Regions from separate parts of the Homo sapiens genome. Here region 1 is linked to region 2. Evidence: fine-mapped expression QTL. A gene starts in region 2. The other region holds a variant in brackets. All regions are shown on one strand. Distances are from middle to middle.

Region 1 (5,378 bases), 220 kb after region 2:
GGTGTGGGGAGTGGCTGGTATGAAAGCATGAGAATGGGGATCATGGAGGGAGTTCATGTCAGCTCTTTATTTTTTTCTGTATGCCATGATTTGCACTATATTGTAGATAAAGGTTTATTAATTGTATCAACATTTTTACTATGTTATCAGATATGACATAGCTTTATATACCCAAGAGTCATGCTGAATAGCCAAGTGAATTAGGCTTAGAAAAAAATCGTGTCTCAATGTGGAGGCTGCTCATGTGGAAATGAACAGGATGTGTCATCCTTGCGATGGATCAAGAGGCCAAGGTGCTGAGAATAAGCACTGGACCAAGAATCCAAAGACCCGGTTTCAACCCCAGGCTTTGTCATGTAGTGGCTGTGTGTCTCTATGCAAGTTAAGTAAGTTATTGGACTAATTGTTTTTGTAATCTGTGAAAGAAGACAATGTCTAATTCATAGAATTGCTAAGAAGATTAAGTGTGCTGGCCTATGATAGTTCCTGGTCCATACTAAGTTCAGACATAAATGTTTGCTGAATGAATAGAATACTTCCCAATGCATTATACTTTTTCTGGTTGATCCTGAGCTAGAATTCTTTCCATTCATTCATTCATTCATTCATTCAACGTATACATATGTTTGCTTAAGAAGGTTCAGAAACTGGTTTCCAAGCCACATTTTGAGAAATATATTTTTGGATTGGAAAAGAATGAGCTTTTGAAATCACTGAAGCAGGCAACACAATATAGTAGATAATAACAACAACAACTACTACCAGTTATTGTGAGCATACCAAGTGTCAAGCACTGGGAAAATGTTTTCCCCATGTGATCTCATTTATTCCTATTACAGCATCAGAGAAGGTAAGTAAGTTCCCAAGGTGGTCCAGTTAGTACATTGAGGGCTAGGATTTTAACCTAATTTTCAGGACTCCAAAGACTGTGTTCTTAATAGTTCTAATAATAACCTTCATCATGGGATTGTTATTGGGTCCAAATGATATACACCATATATAGACATGTTTTATAAACACTAAAGCTCTGTATAAATGTCCATTTACTATCATTATCAGAAAGTGATTGACCTGATGACATTCCACAGGGTCAACTGTGCTTCTGGAGGTAACTGAATGCCAGCTCTGTGTATATCTAAAAATTCTGATTATTTTATGCATTTTTTTTTTTTTGGCCTCTGTTTTATTCGAAGAACTGTTTTCTTTTCTCTACACCTGATCTTTCCAAATTAGATCTGTCGACAGGGTGGCTGAATGGTGAGTGGCTCTCCTGTGTCTTTCTAGGGATGCCCCTGCAGAGCCATGCCGAGGATAACTGAGGGAATTATGGAGAGCTGGCCACACTCTGCTTCTATTTGTTTTGAGCCTGGGAAACAGCAGCTGTCCTAAAATCACCCTGATTCAGAATTCTTCCAAACCAGAACACAGCAGATTCACAAGAATCAAGTGATAAAACTCACCACATTCTCATTTCAGAGGGGAGGAAAGAATCCCAAATGTAAATTTCAGTTCTCTGTGTTCCAAGTACCCCCCCTTCCATTCCCTGCCAACATCTTATTGGCATTCGACTTAAAAATGCATTTTCATTTTACATAATGGATTAATCACACCATGGATTTTTTCCTAATTCATGTCCTTAGGACATATATAATATCTGTTATCTAAGAAAATGTTTATTTGTTTTGTTCTATTGCCCAATAAGCTTATTATAAGTTCAGGCTAGTGTGTGTGTGTGTGTGTGTGTGTGTGTGTGTGTGTGTGTTTACACAGAGAATGTACCACATTAAAACCAGGAAAAATTATCTTTTAAATTATTCCTTGATGTAGAGCAAATCAATCCAGTTTCTTATACCTACTGGAGAAGCACAAATGGTGCTGGAACATCTTCAGAGTGGTTTATGCCCTTGGCAGGTCAATCAGAGGGTAGCTGAAACTGAAGAAGTCATACGCCATGGTGCCAGCGGAAATGAAAATTATACCACTCATACTAACGAGTGCATTTCCAAAGGGACTATTTAGCGGTATTAGAAGTCTCTAAGCAGATGCCTCTGAACTTAAAATACACTTAATTCCTAAGAATTGTCTTGTAATTAATTTACCCAGATAGACTCAATGAGGAGAATGTAGGGCAAAGCACCACATTGCTCAGCAGTTTGCAAACTTCAGGGAACACTAAGATAAATAATTTGATTTTTTTAAACTTCTAAATTCATTTCCCTTATAACTGAGAAACAGGAATGGCATACAGTAAAGAAAAGCACTTTCTGATTCTATAATATAATCTCCTTAAAAAAATTCTTACTACTGTAACAGGAAGGATTCCATGGAGCTGAC[A/G]TCAAAAGAATATCACTCATGCTTTGGATATAGCTTTTATGCCTATTAACTTGTCTGTCTGTAAACATTTCATTGAACGTGGGAAGCTAGCTCCTGACTGTTTTAGTTATACACACAGTGCTGTACAGCAACAAACAGCTTTAACATACCTCCCATTAACACAGCTTGTATTTCATGAAGAACAGCCAGGTCTCATGTGACTGCTAACAGCTGTATTTTTCTAGTATTGAGGAATCTAATTTAAAAAGTGTTCAGATTTTTTCGAGGTTTTGGTAAAAATTTGATAAAACAGTTCTATCTCTGGAGGTTAAAGGTACAGTGGTGTGATCTTTGGATGGGCCACTATATCAATGGGGAGGTTCTTTTGTCAAGCCTTTTGGGTTTTTTTTTTTTTTTTCTAGCAGCTTAGACTTTGGACCCACTTGGATCAGAGTCCCAGTCTGGTTCTCTCTTTGACCTTAAGGAAACTTCTTAACCTATATAGGACTCAGTTTAATTACTTATTAAAATAAAATGATGATAATGATAACAATAGGTGGCATTTGAAGGATGGGGAGGTAATGTACATAATTTACCCTAAATAGTGCCTGGTACAGACTCTATAGGTAGTAGTTTATTATTACCATCTGCTTTTACACCAGGTCAGCTTACTCATTTATTCTATCCCTTAAAAGATATTTATCACACACTTCCTCTGTGCCCTGCAGTGTGCATGGCGTTTTTACATATCTCATATCAACCTTATGAGTAGGTTTCATGATCACCATTTCATAGATGCAAATACTGAAGCTCGAAAGGTTAAGGAATGTGCTCAAGGTCATATAGCTGGTAAGGAATGCAGCCAGAGTTGGCACCCACGTCCACCTTTAATAAACCCATATTCGTGTTTACTAGGCATGAAGCACCAAACTAGGCACTAGGGAGACTGAGATGAATGAGACATGCCTCCTCCACTTCCAAAAACATCACCTTCTATTTGGGGTTGAACAGAGCAGAGGGAGCACCAAATAAGCCAGACCATGACAAATTCTATCATTGTGGTATGAAAGAGATGTTCAGGATCATCACAGAGTATGTAACTAACGACGGGAGAAACTGGGAAGGAGGTCACACAGGAGGTGACTTTTGGAGCTGGATCTGGAAAAATGAATGAGATTTAACAGATAAAGAAGGCAATTCCTTGTAGAGGGAATCTGCTACACAAGGCATGAAGGCTTGGGGTATTTGAAGGATGTTGAGGAATCCTGAGTTTACATCCCCACCTCGTGTCCAGTGACACTGGGCTGGTCATTCTCCTTTCGTTTCTTTCCATCTTTCCTTCCTTTCCATCTTTCGTTCCTTTCCATCTTTCCTTCCTTCCTTCTTTTCTTTCTTTTTTTTTTATTATTATACTTTAAGTTTTAGGGTACATGTGCACATTGTGCAGGTTAGTTACATACGTATACATGTGCCATGCTGGTGCGCTGCACCCACTAACTCATCATCTAGCATTAGGTATATCTCTCCATGCTATCCCTCCCCCCTCCCCCATCCTTCTTTTCCTTCTTTCTTTCTTTCTTTCTTTTTCTCTTTCTTTCTTTCTTTCTTTGTTTCTTTCTTTCTTTCTTTCCTTCTTTCTTTCTTCTTTCTTTCTTTCTTTCTTTCTTTCTTTCTCAGTGTCTCACTGTGTCACCCAGGCTGGAGTGCAGTGGTGCAATCATGGCTCACTGCAGCCTCCAATTCCCAGGCTCAATGATCCTCCCACCTCAGCCTCCTAAGTAGCTGGAACTACAGGTGCACATCACCACACCCGGGTAACTTTTGTATTTTTTGGAGAGATGGGGTTTCCCCATGTTGCCCAGGCTGTTCTTGAACTCCTCAGCTCAAGTGATCCACCTGCCTTGGCTTCCCAAAGTGCTGGGATTACAGGCATGAGTCACTGCACCCAGCAGTTATCCACCTTTCTGCCCCTCCATCTGTTGGAATAAAAACACCGGGTGACTATGGAGATCAAAAGATGAGTGCATAGAAAGCATGTAGCACAGTACCTGGTACAATAAAACTGAGCTGCTGTTTTATACCTCGATGTCTTTGCTCATACTGTTCCCTCATGCCGTAGTGTATCACCACCTTCTGAGACCTCCCACCTCAGCTAACTTCTCACCCACTTACTTCCTCTCATTATGGCTCAGCAGAGGGCTAATATGCCCTGGAACGGTGCTTCTCACCTTTGGTGTATAAGCAAATCATCTGGGCATCCTGTTGCCCAGTGCAGATTCTGATTTGGCAGGTCTGGAGTGGGGCTGGCTTTCTCACAAGCCTCCAGCTGCTGCTGCTGCTGCTGGTTGCAGGACCACACTTGAAGGAGTAGGGCACTACACAGTGTTTCCCAGAGTGGCATCTGCATTTCTAGCAAGCTTCCAGTAATGCCAGATCTACTGGTCCACAGACTATACTTTGATGAGTGAGTCTAAAGCACCATATCAATGTCCATTTTTCAGAGTCCTTCAATGAGCAGAGCTTCACCTTTCTTTCCACTCTTTTCTTCTCCTTCACAGAATGATCCGTTCCAGCCAAACTGGACTCATTTGTGTTTTCCTGAGTGCACTGTCTGCACTGCTCTGGACAGCTGTACTTGAACCCTGACCTTCTCTGTGACCCACAGAGGCCTGTGCACACCTCCATCATGGCACTTACCACGCTGTGTTGAAATCCATATTTACATGTCTGTCTCCACTTCCAGACTATTAGTCTACTAACTATAAGTTACAATCTATACTTTAATAATGACCACGTTACATTTTTACTATCAGTGATGTAGCAAGAAGGTGGGGTGTTGGGAACGGTCATTGTCTTCATATCCTAGGGCTGCCATAACAAAGTCCAACAAACTGGATGGCTTAAAACAATAGAAATTCCATTGTCTCATAATTCTGGAGGCTAGAAGTTTGAAATCAAGGTGTTGACAGGGTTGGCTCCTTTGGAAGGCACTGAGGGAGAATCTGTTCCCTGCTGCTCTCTTAGCTTCAGATGGTTGCTGGCAATCTTTGACATTTCTTGGCTTA
Region 2 (5,378 bases):
TTAGAAGGGACCCGCCCGGAGACCGTGTGGTCCATAATCTCCTCTCGGTGAAGGTTACCATTGCTCCTCTCTCGGCGGTGGTTATCAGGTTCTTGTTTATCAAGTTAAACTATCTCACCCCCGGCAGCTTGTTTTATTTTAGGACCCTGATCCCGAAGGAATGTTTACTCAAGACACAATAATGTTTACCGTTTACCAGGAAAACAGATTGGGTATTTGCAAGGAAGTGTCTTTCAAAGCGACCCCCAGCCCACGTCGACAGCGGAGAAATGAGGTGGGATCCGAGACGGGGAGGCATCTCCACCACCAGGGAGGCAAAGTGGACGACAACACCGGGGACTGGCCGGGATTAACCAAAAGGACGCGCGCAGGGCCGAGCCGACAGCACTGCTACTCGCTCCAGTTTTTAAAAGCGATTTCGCACAAGTAATTGTAACAGCTAAATTAATTACAAAATAATTAGAATTGATGCCTTTTGAGGATATGCTGATGGTGGTGAGAACCAGCCTTCCACATCAAGATGTTTCATTTCTACCTTCATACTTTCTTTTAAAAGTTTTTAACAGCTGAAATGCAAATTAAAAATAATCTACAAGGACCTTCCCCATTCCTGCCCTATGATGTCGCATTTCACACTAACCTAGCCTAAGGTAAAGAAAAAAAAGGGGAGAGAGGTGATGTTCAGCTGTTTTTAAAAGGGTATTAAGGCCACCATTCCTTGGCCTTCAGAAAGGCTTTGGGTTGGAGGGAGAGGAAGCATCTATAGGACCCCTTCAGAAATCCAATTATGTTGTGGATTGATTATTGCCATATAAATGAGATATCTTATTTGAAAATATTATGAAAACAAAACTATGTATTATCTATCAGATGAACATAAATAAAATCCCACTGCAAAATGTAAAGTGCCTTAACATAAATTTTAAAACCAGCTGGGTCTATTTACCACTTCCACTTAAGGAATGAAAAGAAATAATTTCAAAAATCTAAGATTTAAATGTTAAAAAGAGGGATGTTTGGAATTTACTTACTTTTCAAAGGATAATTGAAATGACCAAGAACTCTCTCATTTGGGAAGTTTTCATTGTGGAAGATACAAGTCTAGTCATTTTTTAAAAAAATTTAAAGACTGCTGTTGTTTCGGTTTCTTTTTTTAAATGACAGCTTACTTTATCTACAGAAATGTCTGGTCATTTAGATTTAATGGGTTGATATGAATGATATCACTCACATCCTGATTTTATGTGAAAACTAAAAGAAAAATAGTAACACAATTTAAATTAGGCATACTATTTCCTTTCTCCAATTAAAATTTTCTTACACTCAAATTATGAATTTAAAAAGTTTGAAAAGGCCATTACTTGAAATTCCTTGATTTTCTGGGGAGGAGAAAAGGCAAATAAATACCATTTAAAAATCTTGCCATTTACTTCAGACAACTAAATAAAACACTAGGCTGGGCATTTTAAAAATTTATTTACAAAGTTGTGTACAACACGATGGAATAACATTTAGAATACCATATATATTCATTCATATATAAACAGACTTTTATAATAGAATGACACTTTTTGCCTTTTTGAAAATTTTTTATATTTAAAATCTCCCAACGTCTCTATACATTCTTTTCTCAGATAAAACTTCGGAGAGTGAACCTTCAAAAAAAATGAAAGTTCAGAGCTCTAAATCTACGGAATTTGTTTTTTCTTAAAAAAATAAAAACCCCAAAAGGAAAGTCAATAATTTTTTTACAAATATATACAAAGAATTTCCCTCCCATCCCCACGGTACTAAGAGCAGGCGCCGTCGGGGTGCATTTTTGGAAAATTCGGTTTTCGGTTTTACCTGTATGGAAAGCTATCCCCGGCGGGCGCGCGGTGAGTTTGCTCGACCAGCTTAGGTGTGCGCGAGGGGATGGAGGCCGCGGAAGGTAGGCGTTGGGGGCTCAGGGGAAAGGAAATTGGGGAGAGGCAGAGTCCAGGATTGGGCAGCGGGACCGGGACCGGGCTTGGGACAGGGCGCGCAGCCTGGAGGTGCATTTGTTGCTCGAGGCCGCCGCCGGACCCTGGGTCCCGGCCATTGGCGCGTCCCTATTGCGCCGGCCATTTGGCTTGAGCGGCGGCCGCAGCAGCGGCGGCGGCCGAGGCTGCGGGCTGCAGAAACTGTCCGGAGAGTGGCACGCTAAGAATGGGCGCGATGGTGGCAGTCGTCCGGCTCAGCGACAGCGGTTGGTGGGTGGCCATGAGCGCTGCCGACTGCACGGTCCCGGGTGGCCGCAGAAACGACTGCGCCGTGCTGCCGCCCCCTGAACCCCCAGTGCCGCCGGCGACCCCAGCGCCCACCGCCGAGCCCCCAGGAGCCGCGGGGCCCCCACCTATGATGTTCTCGATGCTGAACGACGGCCGCGCGCTTGGCTCGGACTTGATGAGCGACGCGGTGGTGCCCGCGGCGCCCGCTGTGCCCGCAGCGGCCGCGGCGGCGCCCAGGCTATTGAGCTGCAGCTGCAGGCCCGGGCCGAGCTGTGAGCCGAAGGCGGCCGCTTTGCGGCCCAGCTCGCCCGAGGGCAGCAGCGGCACAGCGGGAGGCAGCACCGGTGCCACCGGCGGCAGCGCGTACGGGTACTGGAGCGCCGCCGCAGCAGCCGCGGCCGCCGCCGCTGCCGGGTGCGAATAGGCACCGGCCGCCGCCGCAGGGTGCAGGCCGTAGGGGCGGCCGTAGGGTCCCGCGGCGCCGGCCGCCGCCGCCAGGCTGTAAGCGCCGAAGCTCTGCATCATGAGCGCCGTCTGCTCGCGCAGGTGCTCCTGCTGGTGGCGCTTGAAGCGTTTCCGGCGCCGCAGGAAGCTGCCGTTGTCGAACATGTCCTCGGACTGCGGGTCCAGGGTCCAGTAGTTGCCCTTGCCCGGGTTGCCCGGCTCGCGGGGGATCTTGACGAAGCAGTCGTTGAGTGAGAGGTTGTGGCGGATGCTGTTCTGCCAGGCGGGGAACTTCTCCCTGTAGTAGGGGAAGCGGTTGCTGATGAACTCGCAGATGCCGCTCAGGGTCAGCTTCTTCTGCGGGCTCTGCAGGATGGCCATGGTGATGAGCGCGATGTACGAGTAAGGCGGCTTCACTAGGCTGTTCTTGGGCTTGCTCGGGGCCAGGCCTCCCGCCGAACCGCTGCCCGCGCCAGGCCCGCCGCCGCTCGCGCCGCCCTCCTCGCCGCCAACACCGCCCTTGCAGCCGTCCGCCTCCGGCGCGCCCACGTCGCCCCCCGGTCCGGCCCCGGCTCCGGCCGCCTCCTTGGGCAATGTCAGGGGCTGCTGGTGGGGCGGCTGAGGCTGTCCGTGATGGGGTGCCGCCGGGGGCACCTCGTCCGCCTCGTCCAGGCGCAGCTCCGGCGGCCCCGCGGGGCTATCGCAACCTGCGTCGCTGTCCTTCTCTTCCAGCCCGTCGTCGCCCTCGCCCACCACATCGATGTCCACGTCCTCGGCCGTCAGCACCGTCTGGCCGGACATGTCGCTGGCGCTGCCGCCGCCGGAGAGGGTCATCCCTCCTCGGGGTTGGTAGCGGCGGCGGGGAGGGGGCAGCGGGCGATGAGGGTGTTCGGGGGCTGCCACGGAGCTCAGGGGAAGAGGGTTTGAGTGCCCCCGAAAGATGGGGGGCAGGGAGAGGGGAGGGGGCCGCAGGTGGCTTGGGGCCCGCTGGGCTCAGCTCACACTCGGCGGCCCCGCATCGCGTGGCGCGGGCTCTGCCGTCCGCCCCCAGCGGCCGCGCTCCGCGAACTCCTGCCGTCCCTGGCGCTCGGTACTAGGCGCTCGCTACCGCTCCCGGCCCCGGCGGTTCTCCACGCCGCGCCCCCTCACTTAGCCCGCCTTCCTCGGCCTCTGGCCCTGGCGTGGGGCGCAGGAGCGGTCCAGGCGGGCGCGGGACGCCGGGCGCCGAGCAGCTCGGGAGGGCGCGGGCAGGGACAGTAGCGGGGGGGCAGGGGGCTGGGTGTCAGGGACGCCGAAGCCCCGGTAGTCGAAAGTCCCGTTTTAAGGACTGGCCTGATAGATTACTTTCTACTTAAAGATCCAGCGGGAGGCGGGGCCACGTGACCGTGCGTGACGTCAGGGCCGCGGCCGAGCCGGCCAAACTCAAGTTGGTTCAGGGAATTGTCAACAAAGGGACGAGAGACGCGCAACTCCGCTCCGCACTGTGCGCCAGCATCCCCGGGGCACGGAGGGCGCTGCGGCCCGCCCGGAGACCCCCCCACCCAGGCTGGATCCGGGCCCTGGGGCCCAGGGAGCGGGTGGGTGTGAGTGTGGGTGGGTGTGAGCGAGTCAGGGCGTGGGCCTGGGAGCGTCCGCGGGACTGTGCGACTGTCGCTGCCCTGCCTTCCCCGCCCCCTCTCCCTTCCGCCCTTCTCCCCCCCACTTTGTCACACTCCTTAGACAGGGACTGGGCGACCTAGAACGAGGTTCCCATATCGTGTTTTAAAAAGCAAAACTTAGTCTCTGTTTTGCTTTTTGTTTCATTGTTTTTAGCTTTAAAGAGTAAGAGCAGCGCACCCGGCTCCCTCCTGCTAATTAGATTTCAGATTCCCCTCTGGCCTCAGTGCTCATTCCGGGGAAGACACCTGCTGAGATGTCTTTTTCCCCCTCCCCCAACCAAACCACTCAGGTCCTACCTGCTCTTTCCCGGCTTGATGCGGGCGTGTTTTCCTGTATGTATTTTTTCGTGCGGCCACAAAAAGCATCAGCTGGGGTTCCCGAAGGTCAGAAAATGGCTATTGATTAATCTACTAGAATAGTTGCCGAGAGAAATAAAAACGACGTAAAATAGCAGGGAACCTATAAATAAAGAAGCCATAACTGGCTACTTGGAGTTGTTAAACGACTTAGCATATGAAAAAATCGGAAATGAGGCGCTGGGGAAGGAGCTGGGATTGGCAGCGGCCTGGGTAAGTCGAGTGGATCCGGGAAGAGGCCTGGTGTCTTCAGGTTAGACGCAGCGCCCAGGGGCGGCTGAAGAAACGTGAGGGGTGCGGGCAGTGACTTCCCGGGCGGCGGGCATGGCCTTGGGGGAACCTGGGCAGACTTGGGCATGCCAGCATGCTGGGATCTCCGTTGCTGCCAGCTAACGTGGATTTTCTTCTCTTAAGGTGTGGACAAATCCTCCAAGATTTAACTTCCAAGAAAACCGGCGGCGGAGCGGGTGGAGGAGGCGAGGATGTGTGGCCAATGCACGCGGAGTGCAAGGCAAGTCAGTGATAGTAGGAAAAACTGTGGGGATTTCACTGGGACTGGAGGGGGAGGCACCGCAAACCGACCCCCAAGTGCGTGGCTGGGGTGCGTGGACCTCACACCTCCAAGGAAAGTCAGTGCTCTTGACGCGGTGAATCAGCGATGCGCCTCCTC

Alleles and levels. Alleles are on the strand shown, and positions count from the first base shown. SD is a standard deviation of normalised expression in the study named.
In carriers of allele G in region 1, the expression in skeletal muscle of the gene that starts at base 2,145 in region 2 tends to be higher than with A alone (moderate effect, 0.62 SD a copy in GTEx).

Evidence for each region. PIP is the estimated chance that this variant, and not a neighbour inherited with it, causes the effect.
Region 1: its variant is the best candidate, but not a certain one, in a credible set for the expression of FOXD3-AS1 in skeletal muscle (FUSION, PIP 0.84).

What each region holds. Positions count from the first base shown.
Region 1 is chr1:63,096,439-63,101,816 of GRCh38, reverse strand. No RefSeq gene overlaps it. Among named protein-coding and RNA genes, the nearest start is that of LINC01739, 87 kb to the right of the region's middle. The variant A/G (reference allele first, on the strand shown) is at 2,335.
Region 2 is chr1:63,321,208-63,326,585 of GRCh38, reverse strand. It overlaps FOXD3-AS1 (FOXD3 antisense RNA 1), which reads left to right and starts at 2,145. Exons shown (of 3, transcript NR_121637.1): 1 at 2,145-2,231; 2 at 5,123-5,219. FOXD3 (forkhead box D3) reads right to left here and starts at 4,019. Exons shown (of 1, transcript NM_012183.3): 1 at 1,458-4,019. The coding sequence starts at 3,527. The coding sequence ends at 2,091. RefSeq lists an enhancer at 2,889-3,578 and silencers at 3,902-3,981, 4,102-4,411.